2 separate regions of the Homo sapiens genome follow, and region 1 is linked to region 2. The links come from fine-mapping of genetic effects on plasma protein levels. A gene starts in region 2. The other region holds a variant in brackets. All regions are shown on one strand. Distances are from middle to middle.

What was found. PIP is the posterior inclusion probability: the model's chance that the variant is causal. Sun 2018 read protein levels with aptamers (SomaScan).
Region 1: its variant is fine-mapped to the plasma level of the PDGFRB protein (Sun 2018, PIP 0.95).

What each region holds. Positions count from the first base shown.
Region 1 is chr5:150,133,117-150,145,330 of GRCh38, forward strand. PDGFRB (platelet derived growth factor receptor beta) reads right to left here. Exons shown (of 23, transcript NM_002609.4): 2 at 3,892-3,937; 3 at 2,439-2,762; 4 at 1,634-1,900; 5 at 765-892; 6 at 470-644. The coding sequence starts at 3,931. Among named protein-coding and RNA genes, the nearest start is that of PDGFRB, 17 kb to the right of the region's middle. RefSeq lists enhancers at 2,430-2,941, 2,942-3,451, 3,452-3,963, 4,474-4,985. The variant G/A (reference allele first, on the strand shown) is at 2,395.
Region 2 is chr5:150,152,502-150,158,499 of GRCh38, forward strand. It overlaps PDGFRB (platelet derived growth factor receptor beta), which reads right to left and starts at 3,344. Exons shown (of 23, transcript NM_002609.4): 1 at 2,896-3,344. RefSeq lists enhancers at 64-584, 585-1,104, 5,262-5,998.

The DNA.
Region 1 (12,214 bases), 16 kb before region 2:
GGGGCTAATATGGATGCTGGGGCCAGCTCCCAGGTTGGGAACAGAGTTGTACTAACAGTTCTCTGTTCTGGGTCAGTACTGTGGCTGATGCTGGGACTAGTGATAAGGTTGAATTTGGGGATGGGGCTTCCCGGACCTGGGATGGCAGTTGGGCTTGGAAGTCAGGTTGGGGCTGGGGCTCTGGCTAGTCAGAAAGTCTAGGTTGAGATAGGGTTGGATTTGGGGCTGACACTACATTTTGGTTTGGGGTTTATCCTGGAATTGGGGTTTTGGTTGGCACAGAGGCTAGCTAGGGCTGCACTGGAGTGTGGCTGACTATACCCCGGGGCTGTGACAGGCACTGGGTCCAGCTCAGCCCTGATCACTGTATCAAAAATGCAACTCTCACCATCACTCTGCACCCAGCAAAGTGGGTGAGGGTGGGGAGCGTTGAAGGAATTGGGGATTGGGCTGAGCCCAAGGCACACACCAACCACGGTGATGTTGATGGCCTTTTCATCCTGATGGTCATTCACACTCTCCGTCACATTGCAGGTGTAGGTCCCCGAGTCTTCTAACTCGGCACTGGGGATGTGCAGGATGGAGCGGATGTGGTAAGGCATATCCAAGAGGAAGTCAGTCACCGGCTCCACCAGCCGCCCACTCTGCAGCAACAGGTTGGGCAGGCCCCCCAAATCAGGAGGGGCCGGGGAGAAATCAGCCTGCAAGCCAGATATCCACCCGTTCCTGGCCCCTCCTCCGACCCCTGCCTGGCCCCACATTACTTCTTTGCGGGGGTATGTCCACTCGAAGTTGACCACCTCATTCCCGATCACAATGCACATGAGGGTGATGTTCTCACCCTGGCGGACCACAGTCTGCACTGCGTTCACAGAGACGTTGATGGATGACACTGGTAGAGAGAGATTGGCTTAGGTCTGGGGAAGTCACCACCAGCCACTAGCACTTCAGCTTGGGGATAGGGTAGGGGGCTAGAGAGGGAAAGGATGACTGATGTAGAAGATTCATTCATTCAACAAATATTTACTGAATACCTACTACATGCCAAGTACTATTCTGGACACTGGAGCAACAGTAGTGAACAAAGTGGACAAAATCTCTGTTCTTATGGAGCTGACGTTCTAGAAGGGATAACAGTCTGGAAATCAAAGTACCCTCTGGAGATCTATGTACAGGAGAAATGTATTGAGCACATAACATGTGCCAGGTACTCTCCATCTTTTATTTAATCTTCACAATTGATCCTATGAGGTAGGCAGCCATTGTTATCCCCACGTTACAAGAGGGGAAGCAGGCTCAGAGAGATTATGTGCTTTGTGTAAAGTCACTCAGACAGGAAATAGCAAAGCTGGGATTTCGACCCAGCTGGCTCTGAAGCTTGTGCCCTCACCGACCATGTTGCACAGGCCAGCTCTGCCACTATCGAATTCTGCGACAGGGGACAAGCTCCATCCTCTCTCTGCGCCTGAGTTTCCCTCTTCTGTAACATGGGGAAAACACTATCTTCCTTCGAAGGCTGTGGTGAGAATCCACTGGGAAGTGGAGTCCCACACTTTGTAAACTGTAAAGGGCTATTCCTCTGTGGAGGGTTATACTTGCCTCTGCTGAGCATCAGGCCAGAAAGGGGGCTCACCCTGGAGTCTGTAGACATAGTAGGCATCAGAATCCACCTCCCTGTCCCCAATGGTGGTTTTGCAGATGTAGCTTCTGTCCTCAAAGATACCAGAAAAGCCACGTTGGTGATCATAGGGGACAGGCAGTGCAACGTCCCCTTTCTTCTCGTGCAGTGTCACCACCAGCTGTGGGTCTGTTACTCGGCATGGAATGGTGATCTCAGTTATTTCCGTGAGAAAGATGAATAGTTCCTCGGCATCATTAGGGAGGAAGCCCACGGTGGGATCTGCCAGGAGTGGAGCCGTGAATAAATCAGGGGAACTGGGTTTCTGGCCATCCCCTGAATTGCTGTGTGGCAAGTCATTTGCCATCTCTGGCCCTCTGTCTCCCCGTTACAGAATAGGGATGCTCCCAGAAGAGCATAAATCAAATGTTAGAGCTGGTCCCTTCCAGCTCTAATGTTTGATATTGACAGTGCCAGGGTAAGAAAGAAGGCAAGTCACAAGTTGAAATGCAGCTGATATCTGGAGCTTGGAGAATGGGGAAGAAGGGATGTGGGGTCAAGAGGGAGCAGATTGGAAGCAGCTGAGAATATAGAGTTCTTGGGAGGCAGGAATAGGGTGACTGGCAGGGAGCAGGCAGATCACCCAGACCAAGGAGTGGGTGCGAACACACTCCCCGACTGAGCCAGGCTGGTTCCATGATTGTCTGCTTTTCTAGGATGGCTGCATTTCACAATAAACTAAAGCACTCTCTGGACTTCCCCTGATGCCTCCAGTT[G/A]ACAAGAGGGGTAAGGAGTGGGCACACAGGCTGGGAGCCCTTACCTGGCACAAAGATGTAGAGCCGTTTCCGCTCATCGGTCTCCAGTCCACGGGAGTCATTGTGGGTGCAAAAGTATTCTCCCGTGTCTAGCCCAGTGAGGTTGGTCAGTGTGAGCACGCTGGAGAAGGTGCCATCCTGGGCCTTGGCCATTTCCTGTGGGGGCTCCTGGGACATCCGTTCCCACACCACCGGAGCTGAACCCGAGCAGGTCAGAACGAAGGTGCTGGAGACATTGAGGACAAGCTCTGGCCCCGGGGGTGTGACGACCAGGCCCTGAGAGATCTGTGGTTCCAGAAGTAACAGGAGAGACAGCAACAGCAGCTCGCCTTTGGGAGAGGAGGTATCAGACATCAGGAAACAGGGGCTTCAGCACCTCTCCCAAGGCTGAGCCTGCGAGGAGGCCACGTATGCACAGCCCTCAGGTCCTTGAGGAGCACAGCTCCTTTATCCGACAGACTGGGGCTCTCCAGCCATGGCTCTGAGGACCGCTCGCCCAGCTCCAAGGCCCCAGGGATTCCTCTGGACTGCCTCTGTCAGTCCCGTTAGACCCCAGCCTCTGAGTCCTTCAGCAGTGCCATGTGTAGGCAGTAGGCACCAGAAGGGGCCAGGAAATCCTCGGGAAGCAATTCCCTGGCCTCCAGTTCCTGCATTGCTTCCCAGGTCACTTTCTGAGCCTCTTCCCTACAGCTCTCTGCCCCCTCCCCCGACTGCCCAGGTTCTGCCCAAGGCCCAGAGGTGGCTCTGGGTGGGAGAGAGATGGGAGGGAGGGGCTTAGGTAGCTCAGAGGGGGGCCAGAAAAGATGCTGAGGCCCTTTTGGGCTGGAGGGAACTGGGGTTGGGGGTGTGTGTGTGTCAAGTGATTGGTCCCCCTCCACGACATCCCCTGGAGAAGGATTTTTCAGGCCACGCCCTCCATGCCCCCTGGTGATACAGATCAGGAGGGGAGGTGGGCGGTCAGGCAGCCAGTCCATCTTATGGCCAGCTGCCGGGCAGGCTGCTGGCTGGTCATTAATTGCTGGGTCAGTCGCTCAGCCCCTGCAGAGCTGAAGACATGTTAACGGGCAGGAGTGAGGGGTGGGGTGTGCTGAGAAGCCCAGCAGGGACCTGGAAGCTCCCAGCCAATGAGGGGTCCAAGCCGAGTGCCACAGATCCACCAGACCGAGGATAGGAGGCCAGGGGTGTGGGCCAGAAGGTGGGATGGGGTCTGGAGGGCCAATCAAAGGATTTGAGCTGATGGTTCTGGACAAGCAGGGGCCCACTGACGCTTTCTGAGCTGAAGGGCTGGCAGCTGGAGGCCTCCACAGAGCCCACTGGAAATCCTGAAAACTAAAGCTGAAGGGCAGGGCAGTGTGCCTGGTGCTTCACGCCCTGCCACCAGCACACATCACCCCTGCCAGCTCCAGGGTTCCACTCCGCAGCCCCCCGGGTCCCCTACCTTATCTCCCATCTACCCACCTTTGAGGGCCAGAGCTGGCATCGCACCCGGAAGCCGCATGGTGTCCTGCAGAGTTAAACAGGAGTCAGGGCCCAGGGCAGGTGGAGGCAGCGACAGGGGCTATCTCACCACCTGGCTCCTGCAGAATGAGCCCCAGCTTGGGCCACCCAGCCTTCATGTCCGAGGGGCTGAAGTCAAAAGCCACCACGTCCCAAGCCTGAAAGGGCACTCATGACCACAGGCTGTCTCCTCTCCATCCCGGACTTAGCCTTGGGGTCCTGGCCTTTGCTTTGGCTCTGCTTGTGACTCTCACGTGGCCTCGGCTGCGTCCCCAGACTCTCTCTGTGCCTTAGTTTCCCTGTCTGTACAGTGAGGGAGGGGAAGTTGGGCTGGATGGTATCCAGTAGCCTACCAGCTCTGACAGCCTGTCCTCCGGGTGACAGTTCCAATACCAGGCTCTTATCTGCCAGGACAAATATTTGGGAAAGTGTGATGAAAGGGATGGGAGGAGGAGGGGGGAGGCCAGAACCCAGAGAACTCCCGCAGCTCCACAAGCACAACAGGAAATGGAGGAGGCTGTGGGCTGTGGGAAGGGAAGCCGGGGAGCCGGGGCTGTGGAATGTGGGAGGTGGGCCTGGACACCTTTACTCAGCCCAGAGCATACAGGGAGGCCCAGGGGACAGCGGCTAGGGGCTGGGCCCAGGAGAGGTCCCATCGAGCAGCCAGGCCTCACAGGTCCTTGGAGACCAGTGAAGCCAGGCTCCCCCCACCCCCACCCCCAGGGTGCAGATGGGGAAACTGAGGCTCTGAGAAGGTGAGAAGTTTACCCAAGATTCCACAGCAGAGCCTGTCTGAGAGGGAGACAGAGAGAAAGAGACCTGGAATGATAGAAGTAGAAAGAGACAAAGACACAGAGACAGAGAGGAGGTGCCCAGAGAGACAGCACCAGAGGCACTAAGAGACAGAAGCAAGGACAAAGACAGAGACAGAAGCAAGGACAAAGACAGAGACAGAAGCAAGGACAAAGACAGAGACAGAAGCAAGGACAAAGACAGAGACAGACTGAATGGGGTGGCCCTTGCTCTCCTCTATCTTGGAAGACACACCTCAGGTCCCAAGAGACCACCAGGAGCCAAGTATGCCAAGAGTCTGCCTGCAGCATTGGCAGGAAGGACGCCAGAGGACAGGGGTCGCAGAGCATGAGCTTTGGGAGGTGACGGCATGATGAGGCAACAAGGAGCCTCCTCTGGCTGTGGGGCTGCCCAGCCTGGCCTGCCTCTGAAGGCCATGCCCAGCTTGCCCCTACCTCCCCATCTCACCCCTTTTAGTTTTCAGTTTAGGTCTGCAGACCGGGTTCAGGCCCCAGCATGCCACCTCTTGTGCCATCGCTCTCCCTGTGGCCTAAGTCCCCAGCTCTGGAAGTGGATGATGGTGAGTACCTCACCTACCAGGGCTGCATTCACATGTCAGGGGTGGGACATAGGCAAGGCTCCTCCCGCCTATGGACCCCCAATCTTAGCTCTTCCCAACACCCCAAGAAACAGTCTGAGCAAATCAGCTCTTCTCCTCCCTCCTCCCTTTCAGACTGCCTGCCTGAAGGTCTCCTCGTTTCTTCCTCTCCCCTCTCTGAACTGCTCCTGACTCAAAGCCCAGCCCTTCTGACGCCCCCTCCAGCCTCTGCTCCCCACCATTCCTCTGCCCCAGCCCCTCCAGCTGGATGCCAGGCCTCCTTGGTCAGGAGGGAGCAGCGCCAAGGCGGAGCCAGCAGCCCCCACAGAGGCCCATCTGCCCCTCCGTCGGTGCCCCTCTGGCTGCCCCCTTCCTGCTAGAGATCTCAGCCAAAGAAAATCATTAGCAGAGGCTGGGGGAGGGGGTCACTTCAGCTTCCCTGCCCCTCCTCTCCCAGTCTCCCTGGCTGGCCACACTGTTTATTATTCTAAAGGAGGAATTTGGCCGGCTGGCCAGGAGAAGGGAGGTCACTGCAGCGGGGCTGGCCTGGCTCTGGAAGGCTGGGCTGGCTATGTGGGCTGGGCCTTCATGGCATGCAGCCCCCGACCCTCCTCCCATGTGGCACTCCATCCTCTCCCCTTCAGGCTCTCTTCTGCTGGGCCTGGGGCTGGGGGTGGCTTAGAGACTCTGAGCTAGGAGGTATGCTTTTTGAATGGGCAGCAGAGGCCCAGAGAAGGACAGAAGCATGCCCCAGTCACACAGCAAAAAGGCAGATTCAAGCTGTGGGGAGAGGACAGGCAGGCAGTGTGGATGCCGTAGGGAGGTTGTAGGCACCCCAGGGATCTCGGACTGGCTTTACTATGAATAGAGCAATCAGCTCCCCTCATAAGCACCCTGGGACCCACTGTGAGACTGAGCGAGTCTCCAGCCTCTCTGAACTCTGCGTCCCCATCCATATAGAGAGGTTGGCAGGTGTCATCTCAAAGAGCTGTCCCTATGGTGAAGCTCTGCCTTTCTGACAGGCCAAAGAGAAGATTCTAGTCACCACGAATCTTACCGGGGTGTTTTGAGGAGGTGGGGGCTAGTAAGCAGGAGGGGGCTACATTCCTGAGGCTAGAGTCACATAAGAATCCACCAGCCATCTCATTCCACGAAAGGAATTTCCATGACTATTCAGCCACAGACTTGCTGTGCGGGCTTTGACAAGTTGTTTCCCTCTCTGGGCCTCAGTTTCCCCATCTATACAATTAAGAGTTAGACCAAGGCTGGGCATGGTGGCTCATGCCTGTAATCCCAGCACTTTGGGAGGCCGAGCCAGGCGGATCACGAGGTTGAGAGATCGAGACCAACCTAGCCAACATGGTGAAACCCCGTCTCTACTAAAAATACAAAAATTAGCTGGACATGGTGGCAAGTGCCTGTAGTCCCAGCTACTCAGGAGGCCGAGGCAGGAGAATCGCTTGAACCCAGGAGGCGGAGGTTGCAGTGAGCTGAGATCACGCCACTACACTCCAGCCTGGTGACAGAGTGAGACTCTGTCTCAAAAAAAAAAAAAAAAGTTAGACAACAGTGTTTCAACAGTGTTTCAGGGGACTTTCCGCTGGTGACGTGGAACCCCAGGAGGTGGCAAGGAAAGAGTGGTAGGGACAAGAGGCTGGAGGGCCAGGGAGGGCAGAGAAGGGCTTAGGGCACCCAGACATGACTTCCCAGGCCATCCTGGATGACTCCCTGATACCCCACATTTTCCACCAAATGTGTTAGGCCTCTTTGTGCTTCCCAGAGGCTGTTCTGGTTCCAGCCAATCCCAGGGAGGCCCAGGCAGCTGACTTGGTGGTAGTGGGCTTGCCTGTGACAACTTCCCCTCTTTAGGAGGACTGTACTCTAGGGAAGGGCCACCTAGGACAAGCTGGATGTCACAGTCAGAGAGCAGGCACTCCCCCTATCTGCTGTACTCTCCTGCCCAGGGAGGCCTCTAGAGCAGAGAGAGGGAGGGCACCCCTAGGTGTCCCCCTTTTGCCCATGAAGAGAGTGCTATGTGCCAGGAACCCCTCCTGATTCCTCCTATTCTGGCCAGGTTGTAGGCTCAGAGGCCCAAAGTGGAGATCATGCCCAGCTCCTCACGTGACTCAGAGGGACCCCTTAGGGGAGCAGAGTGAGGACCCCAAGTCCGGGGCACAGAGTGGAACCCCAAGTTCAGGGGAGAGGAGTGGGGGGCCCCAAGTCTAGGGGAGCGGAGTAAGGACCCCAAGTCCAGGGGAGCAGACTGGGAACTCCAAGTCAAAAGGAAGCAGAGTGGGGACCCCAAGTCAAAGGAGCAGAGTAAGGACCCCAAGTCCAGGGGAGAGGAGTGGGTGCCCCAAGTCCAGGAGAGCAAGCATGCTTGGGGAGTCATTCTCAGAGCCCCAGACTTCCCTCCTCCCAGCACGTACAATTCTCCACTCCTTTCCCACCGCCTTAATCTAAATAAATCCAGCCCATCTTGGCCACATCCGCCAGCAACAGCTTCCCTCCCTCAGGGTCCTGAGGCTCCCACGACACAGGCAGGCCAGGGAGGGGGCCCTGCATTGCTGCGGGGGTTGATGGGGGGAGCCTGCACATGGTCAGCACATACACACAGCACAGATGCACAGATGCCTGCCTACGCACTTCCTCGCACACTCCTCTGAAACACATACGTATGCAAGAGGCCATGTGGGTGCCAAGCCCTCATGCAGGTACTAAACATGTACACACCCACACAAAACACATGTGCGCAGCTCCCACTGTGCCCAGCACCCGTGGAGATGCACCCGTGTGCAACAGTTCACATGTGTATGCAGCACATACAACATGCACAGAACATGTGCACATAGAACCCCAAATTCACCTGAACACACAGCCATATGCATGAACAGACAAGCCAGAAAGCCCGTGTTACTGCACCAGGAACCATTCTGAGCATTTGGCACGTATTGGCTCACTTGATTCTCCATCAACTCTATGAGGTAGATACAGTGATCATTTCCATTTTACAGTGGGGAAACTGAGGCAGAGAGCATTTAATAACTGGGCTAGGAACACAGAGCCAGAAGGGGTAGAGCAGAGATTAAAGTGAAGTGGTGTGACTCTGTGTTCTATGCCACCAGCTCCACCGCTTCTCTGACCAACGTGCATGTTTGGTTGGGTCTGGGGAGAAGGCAGTGGGGACTGAAAAAAACAGATGGATTTGAGAGTTACTTAGCTGAGAATCAACAGGACTGGGTGACTTAATATTGAGGGGCTGGAGAGGGAGGTATGCACCTCTGTATCTGGCTTGGAATACTGGGAGGCAGAAGTGTATGTGTGTGTGTGTGTACACGCGCACGTGCTGAGGGGACGATGCCATTTTCTGAGATGAGAATGAGGTCAAAGAGCAGGAGTGAGAGCTGCAACTGAGCAGGTTTAGGATAGGGAGGGTCTGTGGGCACTGAGGGGACAGTGGGATGTTCAGTCTGGAGGCCAGGAACAGGCCGGGTAGAAACAGCAGTGAGATGAGAGAGAGAGGGCCATGCTGCAGGGAGAGGGGGGTGCTGGGGGCAGGCAGTCTCAGGCCTGGGATGCTCTGAATAAACCAAATGCCTGAGGGAGGAGGAGGCCTGGCCATGGGGTTATGGGGTCAGAGTCTTGGAATGTCAGCACGCCAGAGCCCTCAGGGATCATCTATCTGATCTAACTGCCTTCCTGTGCTCCATTGTGCTCGTGGGGAAACTGAGGCTTAGGGAAGGAAAGCAAGAGGGCCCATTGTTTTGGCCTAGACAAGATGGGCTCGGGTGATCGGTGGGGCTGAAGCTCACCTGGCTGCGCAGCTCCCCGCCTCCAGCCCCTGCTAAGATGTGAGGCTGGTGGCTCAAGGCCCCAGGCTTCAGGCTATAGCTGCCCCTGCCCTCTCCACAGCACACCTCTGTCCTGCCACACATTGACCTTTGTTTCAAAGTCACATTCTCTGCACGAGCCCAGCCAGGCAGGGATTGGCGACTGAGACTCAGAGGAGGTAATTTGCTAAGTTGTTGGGAGAAGTGAGCCACAGACTCCAGTCTCCTGACCCAGTCCAGTCTTCTGTTCTCCGTACCGGGGCACTTTACAGGCCTGGGACAGACTTTGGAGGGGGGTTGGGGTGGGAAGTAAGAAGACCTGGCTCTAGTCCCGGCTGTGACACCCACTTATAGGATAGTGGTCCCCCCTATCTGCAGGGAATACATTCCAAGGCCCCAGTAGATGCCTGAAACTTTGGATAAAACCAAACCCCATACATACTATGTTCTTTTCCCTGCAAATACATACCTATTATAAAGTTTTATTTATAAATAAGGCACAGTAAGAGATGAACAACAATAATAATAAAATAGAACAATGATAAAAATATACTGTAATAAAAGTCATGTGACTGTGTTCTCTCTCTTAAAATATCTTACTGTATCGTTCACTCTTCTTGTGAAGACGTGGAATGACACGGTGCCTACGTGATAAGAGGAAGTGAGGTGATGGCGTAAGAATTGTGAAGTAGCGTTAGGCTACTACTGACCTCCAGACATTATCAGAAGGATCAGGTCATCTGCTCCAAGTGATCCTGGACCACCGAGCCATGATGGTGTTGATGGCTGGATGTCAGTAGTGGACTTTGTTGATGACTAACAGGTGGGTAGCGTATATGGACAAAGGGATGATTCACTCCTGGGCGGGACAGACAGGACAGTGCAAGATTTCATCACACTACTCAGAACAGCACAAAATTTAAAGCTTGTAAGTTGTTTATTTCTGGAATTTTCCATTTAATGTTTTTGGACCACAGTTGATCTGGGGTAACTGAAACTTCAGAAAGTGAAACTGCAGCTAAGGGTGACTACTGTACAGTCCTGACCCTCTCTGAGCCTCAGTTTCCTTATCTGTGCAAAAGGGTGGGCAAGAGTGTCTTGGGAGCACTTTCAGGGCTGACATGCTGTGGCCCTCAGGGCTCCACTCTGGGAAGGCAGCTGTGCTGAGCTGGAATGCTGGGCTCGGGGTGGGGGTGCTGGGGAGGGACCCATGTCATGACTCAGCTCAGAGAAGGCTGCCAGTTCCAGGCCTGGGAGTCTGTGGGGGCAAGAGGCATCTGGAGCCAGGGATGAAGTCCTCCCGCCAGCAGCTAAAGAGTAGGAAAGGGATAGCAGCACAGCCTGGGCCTGGCGGCAAGTCTGGTCCATGTGGCTGTCCCCAAGCAGGCTGAGATGTGGGTGTGATTGGGTCATGTGATCAGGGAGCCCCATCCTGGGAGCCAGAGAAGAGAGCAGGATCGGAGGGTGAGGAGACAGTTACAGGTGGAGGGGAGAAACTGGGGAAGTGGCCGAGGCTCCCACCCGCCCCCTTCAATCCTATGCTCGCTCCACTTCCAGTTGTTGGAGAAGGCTCAGTGCTCCACCCCTGCACCACGAACCTCCCCACCAGCCTCGGGATCACTCTAAGGGCTACAGAAAGAGAGCAGCCCGGCGCAGCCCACTCGGTGTTGGAGCCATTCTCTGTGCCACGCTGCTTCTAGGCCCGGGGTCCTCTTTATGTTTCTCCAGGTACCTACAAAGTCCCCTGAACAAAGCAGCAGAAATCGACTAAGATGGGGCCTGGCGTGTGCTCCCGCTGCTCTGGAAGTCCAAACTGGATGGAAGAATAGCGCTGGTTCCCTGGAAGGCTGCTAAGCCCCCTGCACCCCCTCCTCCAGCACAGGCTCGGCTGCCTCTGGCTATCCCACCGCCAATCTCCTCACCTCCAATCTGTCCCCTCCACCTGTTCTCACACCCCAGCCAGAGGGACCTTTCTGAAATACCTATGTGACCTCTCCGGCCCTCCTCTGCTCTCCATCCCCCTCAGGCAAAGGCTGGCTTCTCTGCCCAGCCTTTCAGAATCTTCCGGCCCGGCCCTGACAGCTCCCTCACAACTGAGGGAGGAAGGCGGCTGCCCCTCCAGCTCCCCAGGGCCCAAGCCAGGCCCTCACACTCGTCACTCACTGCATGCTCCTCTCCCCATGAGGCCTCCCCAGGGAACACAATGGAAAGAAATGACCTATTTTCTGGAAGTCCAAAATAAGATGAAACATCTGTCTGGAATGGGGCCAGGCTGATAAAGAACGGGCTGATCTCCCCAGCCCGAGCCCCGCTCTCCTGCAGCAAACACCCCCTCACCCGTCAGAGTGCCTGTGCTTGGGGGTGGGGGCAGCGATGCGGCTGGCTACTTGGAACAGTGCGTGGGAAAGCGCTCAGTGTGTGCCTCACGGCTGCTGGGGGCCCAAGGGAGGGGGCCTGGGTCCCCAGGAAGGCTGGGAAGCAGCCTGAGAAGGAGGTCAGTGAGGGAGGGAGGCCTGCTGCACACCCCTGCCCACCGGCTGCAGAGCAAGCACTTCCTGCCTCCTGCGGTGCCTTGAGGGTTACCCCCAGGGCCCTGTGGATTCCTGGCCCTGAGTCCCCCCACCCACCCCGGCCCCATCTGGGCCTCCAACAGCCTTAAAAATAACAATAATAATAATAGCTACCTCTGATTTAGTACAGTTGACCCTTGAACTACACAGGTTTGAACTGTGCAGGTCCACTAACACGTGAATGTTCCACACATGTGAAACATCCACCTCCTTCCCACCCTTCCACTCCTCCACCTCTTCCGCCTCTGCCACCCCTGAAAGCAAGGCCAACCCTTCCTCTTCCTCCTCCTTCCCAGTCTACTTAACGTGCAGACAAGGGTGAAGACTTTTTCAGTGATCTACTTCCACTTAATATAAACTGAATGTATTTTCTCTTCCTTGTGATTTTCTTTCATCTAGCTTACTTTATTGTAAGAACATAGTATATAATATACATAACAGACAAAATATGTGTTAATTGACTTTACATTATCAGTAAGGCCCACAGTAGGCTG
Region 2 (5,998 bases):
ACCCACTGCCCACTGGGTTCTGAATCAAATGCAAGAAATGGGTGGGCATTTCAGAAGACCTTTTCATCCCTTTCTCCCTTCCCACTGCATTCAGCAGCAGCCTGTTCTGAGCCAATGCCCAGAGCACCCTCCTTTAGCCTAGAAGGCAGCTGGTCTCAGAGTCAGACTGTGGCCTGTGCCTGGAGGATGGACACGGATCTTTGGAACATACATGGTGTCCAGGTCCCTTCTGTGGGCAGAGCCTTTTGCAGGTTGCAGATTAATTTCACAGCCAAGTGTTCCAATGCAGGAGGCCAGGAGAGCAGTGGTTCTCTCAGCCAGTGGCCAGAGGTCCAGCTGTGAAGTGCAGGAACTGTGGTAAGCACCTTGCCAATGCTGTTGTCTCATGGAGCCCACACACGGTCCTGCTGCTCACAGAGAAGGAGATTGAGGCCCAGAGAGGCAAGGTGCTGCCCCGGGGTCACACAGTCAGCCAGAAACTGACTCGGGGTCAATGCATAGTCATCTGATGCCCAAGCCTGGTGCTGGTTACCCACAGCGCTCACTGCCTCCCAGCTGCGGAAGGAGCCCAGAGATGGGATGTGGGGGGTCTGAGGTTGGCCACACGGTGGATTTAAATCAAGCCAGGGCAAGCACTGGGTCTCCTGACTCTGGATCCACGGTGCTTTCCACTGCCTGCCCCACATGTGTGGGCAATTATAAGTCCCAGCTCTTCTTCCCGCAGAGGAGGGGGGCTGCTGATAACTGCTGTCTGGGAGGAGGGTGCTGACCAGATGGTCTCTTTCCTCTCTCAAGACCAAGCCAGGGCCCGGGCAGACCTTGGAGCAGTCAGACCTGAGGCTGCACTTTCTGCTGGGGAAGGTGCTGAAGCCAGGAGCAGGCTCTGCAGGAGGATGGAGATTCTTCCCTCTGACTGGGAGCTTCCCGGGGAGCACGAGGTAAGCCTTTAGAGTCAGGCAGACTTCAGCCTAAACACCACCTTAACTCACCGTATGGCCCTGGGAAAGTCACTTAGCCTCTCCAGATCTCAGCTTCCTCATCTACAAAAAGTAGGTAATAACACTGATTTCAAAAACTTGCCATGAGGACTCCAAGGTGTGTGAAGTACCAGGCTCTATGCCTGCATGAGGTAGGTGTTCAGGGACTGTATGTCCCTGAAGGCTGTGGATTCAGGGTCTCCTGCTTGGAGACAGGGGAGGACTGCATGACTTCAGAACTTGTCACTAGAGGCCTCTGTGCAATTGGGAGGTCACAGAGGGAAGCAGAGATACTCCTCCCTGCTTGCAATGGAGGAATGCTGCCTGGAGTAGCCACACGATGTCCTGGAAGGGCACCTGTGAGAAGGCTGGAGGCCTGGGTTCTAGTCTCACACTTGGGAGCAGAAGGTCTTCAGTGAGCTCCTCCTCCCTTTCACCAGGACATTTTTTCAGCCGCACTGCCTATCCAGGGCTGGGCACTGGGGGAAGAGCACAGGATGGGGAAACCTTAAACCTTTCCCCAGCAGAAAGTGCGGCCTCAGTTCTGACTGCTGGGGCCTGAACAATCTCTGATGAACAAACAGAACATAAACAGATCACCAACAGGGGAGGGCCAAGTAACATGGCTTCAGCACAAAGTGCATGGCTAGCACTTGGAAGACAGGAAGAACCTAGGAAGGCTGCCTGGAAGAGGTGGTGTATGGAATATCCCTGAAAGAAAAGTGATGAGGAAGGGCATTCCAGAAAGGGGGAAGAGGGAGGGCAAATGCCCACAAGCAGGATGGTGCGCATTCCTTCTGGGAATTCTGGGATCTGACTGGCGGGAACAAAAGGCCCAAGTTTGGAGTAATGGGGCACGGGGAGATTCCAACCTCTCCAGGCTGTGCCACTTACTAGCTGTGTGGCTACAGTTATGTGGCTGCGTGAGCCTCAAGTTCCTCATGTATAAAACGGAGGTAAAAACAGTCACTGCCTCTGGGGTTGCTGGTGAGCATTACATGAGATCAGTCTCATAAAGCACTCAGCACAGTTGCGGCGTGCAGTAAGTGTCAAGCAGTGGCAGCCTCTGTTAGGAGCTGGGACTTTCTCCAGGCACTGGGGAGCCATAGGCGGATCCTGGGCAGGGAGGTGGTGTGATTGGATTTATGCTTTAGAATGGCATGGAGAAGGGGTAGAGTCCAGAAGGAGGGAGACAACGAGGAGGCCTGAGCAGCTGCCTGGGACCAAAGGAAATGGCCCAGTGGCTGACCCCTTCTTCACAGAGGAGCCCCCAGATCTGACAGCCAGGTCCCAGCCCCCAGACCCAGCAGCATGACCGCTAGGGGGTTGCCATGGCCGCCCATCACCCTCGAACTTTCCTAGCCCTCAAACTTTTCTAGCTGCTGGGGGTTTAGAAGGATATCTTAAGAATCTAGAAAATTTGCAAATCCATTTAAATCCCCAGAGGTTGCCTGGCGGCTGACTGGCCTAAAGCCAGACTGATTCTTAGAAACAAGGCTTGGGCCAAGGAACAGCGGCTATGGTCCTGAGGTCCCCAGTCCCCTGCTTTCTGTGTACCCTGCCTACCTTCTCCCAATTCCCCTCTCCCGCTCTTCCCAGCTCTCCCCACTCCCCATTGACTGTGCTGTGCTTTGGAGGCCCCCAGTCAGCACCCAGAAACCCCTGAGGATTGTTTGATGAAGGCAGGAGCAGCAGGGATGATGAGGTGGAGGCCACTCACCCCAGAGCAGGGGAAAGGAGAAAACTGGCTCCTCCATCCCTGACATCACCCACAGTCTCCCAGCCTCCTCTCATCTTGTTTTGTTAAAAATATCTTCCCTTTTTTTTTTTTTTTTTTTTTTTACCTACTCGAAGAGATGCAGGTTAGGGCAAAGGGACAGGGCATGGGGCTGGGGTTCCCACTTTTTCCAGCACTTACCTTGCTGCTGATGGCTTCTGGTGTGGGCACAGTTCCAGGCTCTGGACAGTCACCCCCTCCAGGAAGTCCTCCTTACTGCCCTCTCCCAGTTATCAGAAAGACTGCTGGTCCCAGAGTGGGTAACAGCTGAGTAGAAGGACAGGCAGGACTGGTGCAGGCTCCTGAAGGCTCAGGAGAACAGAGGGATGGAGGAAGGGGGCTGCTGTAGGGGAGAGGAGCGGCCCAGCTTCGCCTCACTCCCCAAGCATCCTTCGGGAGGAGCAGAGCCGCCAGAGGGGCCGCCCTGGGTCTGGCTGTCTGCGTTGGGCAGGGCGAGCACAGGCTGCTGCTGGGCAGCAGGGCTGAGGGGCCGGCTCTCTCCTCCTCCTTGTTGATCTCCTCTCTGGCTCCAAGTTGCTCACAGAGCGATCCTGGGTCCCAGATAGGGCGGGCAGTCACTGCTGGCTGCTGGCAGCCTCAGGAGCTCACACCACTATGGGCTTCCATGCCCCCCCACTTCCCCCGCCACTTTGGGGGAAAGGCTGCAGGGTGGCTTCTGATTGGCCCAGCTGGGAGAAGGGGGGGCGGCGGGGCAGGGAGGGTGGACGCGTGCGTCTGTTTTCAATTTCAGTTTTTTTCCCCCTCTCTCTTTCTTTTCCCCCAAGTTTCTTGTTTTTCTTCTTTTCACTCTGCTTACTCCCTCCCATCGCCCGTTCGCTCAGGATGTGAGGGGATGCTTAGAAATTCCACAGCCCACGCCAGCCGCCAGCTGCTGAGTCACTTTTGTCAAAGAGTGGCCTCGGCCCCACTTTCCCGATGCCCATGTCGGGTGGCGGCCTCCCCTTGCCATGGCACCCAGGGAGATCATTTCTCAGTGCCTCAGTTTCCCCATCTGTAAAGGAGACTCTGATCATCTCTGTGGTTGATTCAGTCAACCTTCATTCATTGAACAAGCATACTGAGCATTTACTACATTCTAACACTGTACTGGGTGCAGGGGACAGTAGCAAGACGTGGTCCTGACCTCAGAAGCACCAGGCTAGTGAGCAAGATATTCATTGGGCAAGCAGGTGCCCGGTCGGCAGACAGGAGGCTGAGAGTGCATTTAGAAGGACCCCTAACGGAAGCCTGAGAGAATCAGAGAGCACTGCTGAGAAGAGGTGACATGGAGGAGATGGAAAGATCCTCCAAGATGATCAGCCGTTTTTCAGAAGGACAAACCAAGGCCCAGGGGTGAATTGGCACAGAGAGGGAATGTGATTTGGTCAAGGTCATCCAGCACAGATTGGATATCTCTGGATATTGACAGATACATTCCTTTTCACGTCTCAAAGCCCCTGGGGTGCAAGGAGAGGATTATTTGCCCCATTTTATAGATGGGGACACTGAGGCCCAGAGGAGCAAAATAAGCTTCCCAAGCTTACGCAGCAATGGCAGAGCTGGGGCAGAACTAGGTCTCATGAGACACATGATGGAAGAGACACAAGTCATCTGACCCCCACCCGAGACCCCTATTCCAGTGTAGATGAACCCCCTGCCCTGCTTTCTTCCTAGGTTCCCCCTGTGGCTCTTTCATTCAGTCACTCAACAAGATACTTTCTTTTTTTTTTTTTTTTTTTTTTTGAGATGGAGTCTTGCTCTGTCTCCCAGGCTGGAGTGCAATGGCGCAGTCTAGGCTCACTGCAACCTCCGCCTCCCAGGTTCAAGTGACTCTCCTGCCTCAGACTCCCAAGTAGCTGGGATTACAGGCGCACACCACCACACCTGGCTATTTTTGTATTTTTTGTAGAGACCGGGTTTCACTATGTTGGCCAGGCTGGTCTCAAACCCCTGACTTCATGATCCACCCACCTCAGCCTCCCAAAGTGCTGGGATTACAGGCTTGAGCCACCGCACCCAGCCTCAACAAGATACTTTCAAGTATCCGTTTTGTTCCATTTCCATTCTCTGGCTCTCCTTTCCTACCAGGGTCTGCCAAGACTCCTCCAGTTCCCCCAGCTGGGTCTCTTCTTCCACCCTCAGCTTCTCAGATCAGAAGACATCTCCAGTTACAGACTCCTAGCCCTCAGATGGCAAAGGGCATTATTTTAGAAGGGCATATAGAGTGGGCTTACCACCCCTGCTCCCACTACTGCACCCACAGGGCAACTGAATTCCAGAGGGTGAAGAAAGCTGTCCCAGGTGACACAGGTAGAGGCTGGCTCTGCCCTCCTTCCCTCTGCGCCGCTAAGTCTTTCCTCCTCAGCTTCCCCCAGACCCCTGTTCACAGAGCAGAGGATTTGCGTGAGCTGGGATTCCATGCCCACCACAGTCAACTATCTTGCATTTCTTGGTCTAGTCCCAATCGGGATTGCCCAGCAGAGCATCTGGGCTGGACCACATAGAAGGAGAAGTGTTCTCAGACTGGTTCCCAGCCACGGGTTGGGGACCATAAGAGTACCCCGAGAGAGGGGGCCTGGCCAGGTCTTTGTGGCAACAGGGAAATAGGGGAATGTGAAAAGATCCCACAGGCCACAAGGTCAGGCTTGCACAGGGATTTCTTGTGCCCAAAGATTCCGTCAGAAATTTACGACTCCCCTCCTAGCATCTGCCTGGGCCATTCACCTCTGAATCCTTGGCTGACCCTCTGCAGCCAGGCCAGCCTGGGGGAGGCCACGAGACACACCAACCCCCTAGTCCCCAAAGAAGCTAGTCTGGGAGTCAGAAGACCCAGCCACAGACTTATCAGGAGAACTTGAATAAGTCCCTTGCCCTGCCTGAGCCTCGGTTTCCCTATTTGTACATAACAGTTGTGGACTCACTGTGCTACAAGGCCCTTGGGATGGTCCGTCTGCAATTTCCCTTAGAGCTGGACTCTAGCAAGGGAGAGGAGGCTGGTGGGCCCTAGGGCAGGGGTACAGCTGGGGCCAGAGATGCAGCACAAAGGGGAGGGGCAGTTGGCGGTGGCTCCCCTGGGAAGCTGGCGGCCTCCAGTTTCCGGCCAGCCCAGCCGTCCTGAGGCCCATCTGGAATTACTTAGCCCCTACTGCCATTAACCCTTGGTGGGCACCAGGACTGTCACTCCTCCTCTCAACTGAGATATGGGTGGGAGGTGCAGAGCTACAGGGAGCAACCCAGGGCACTC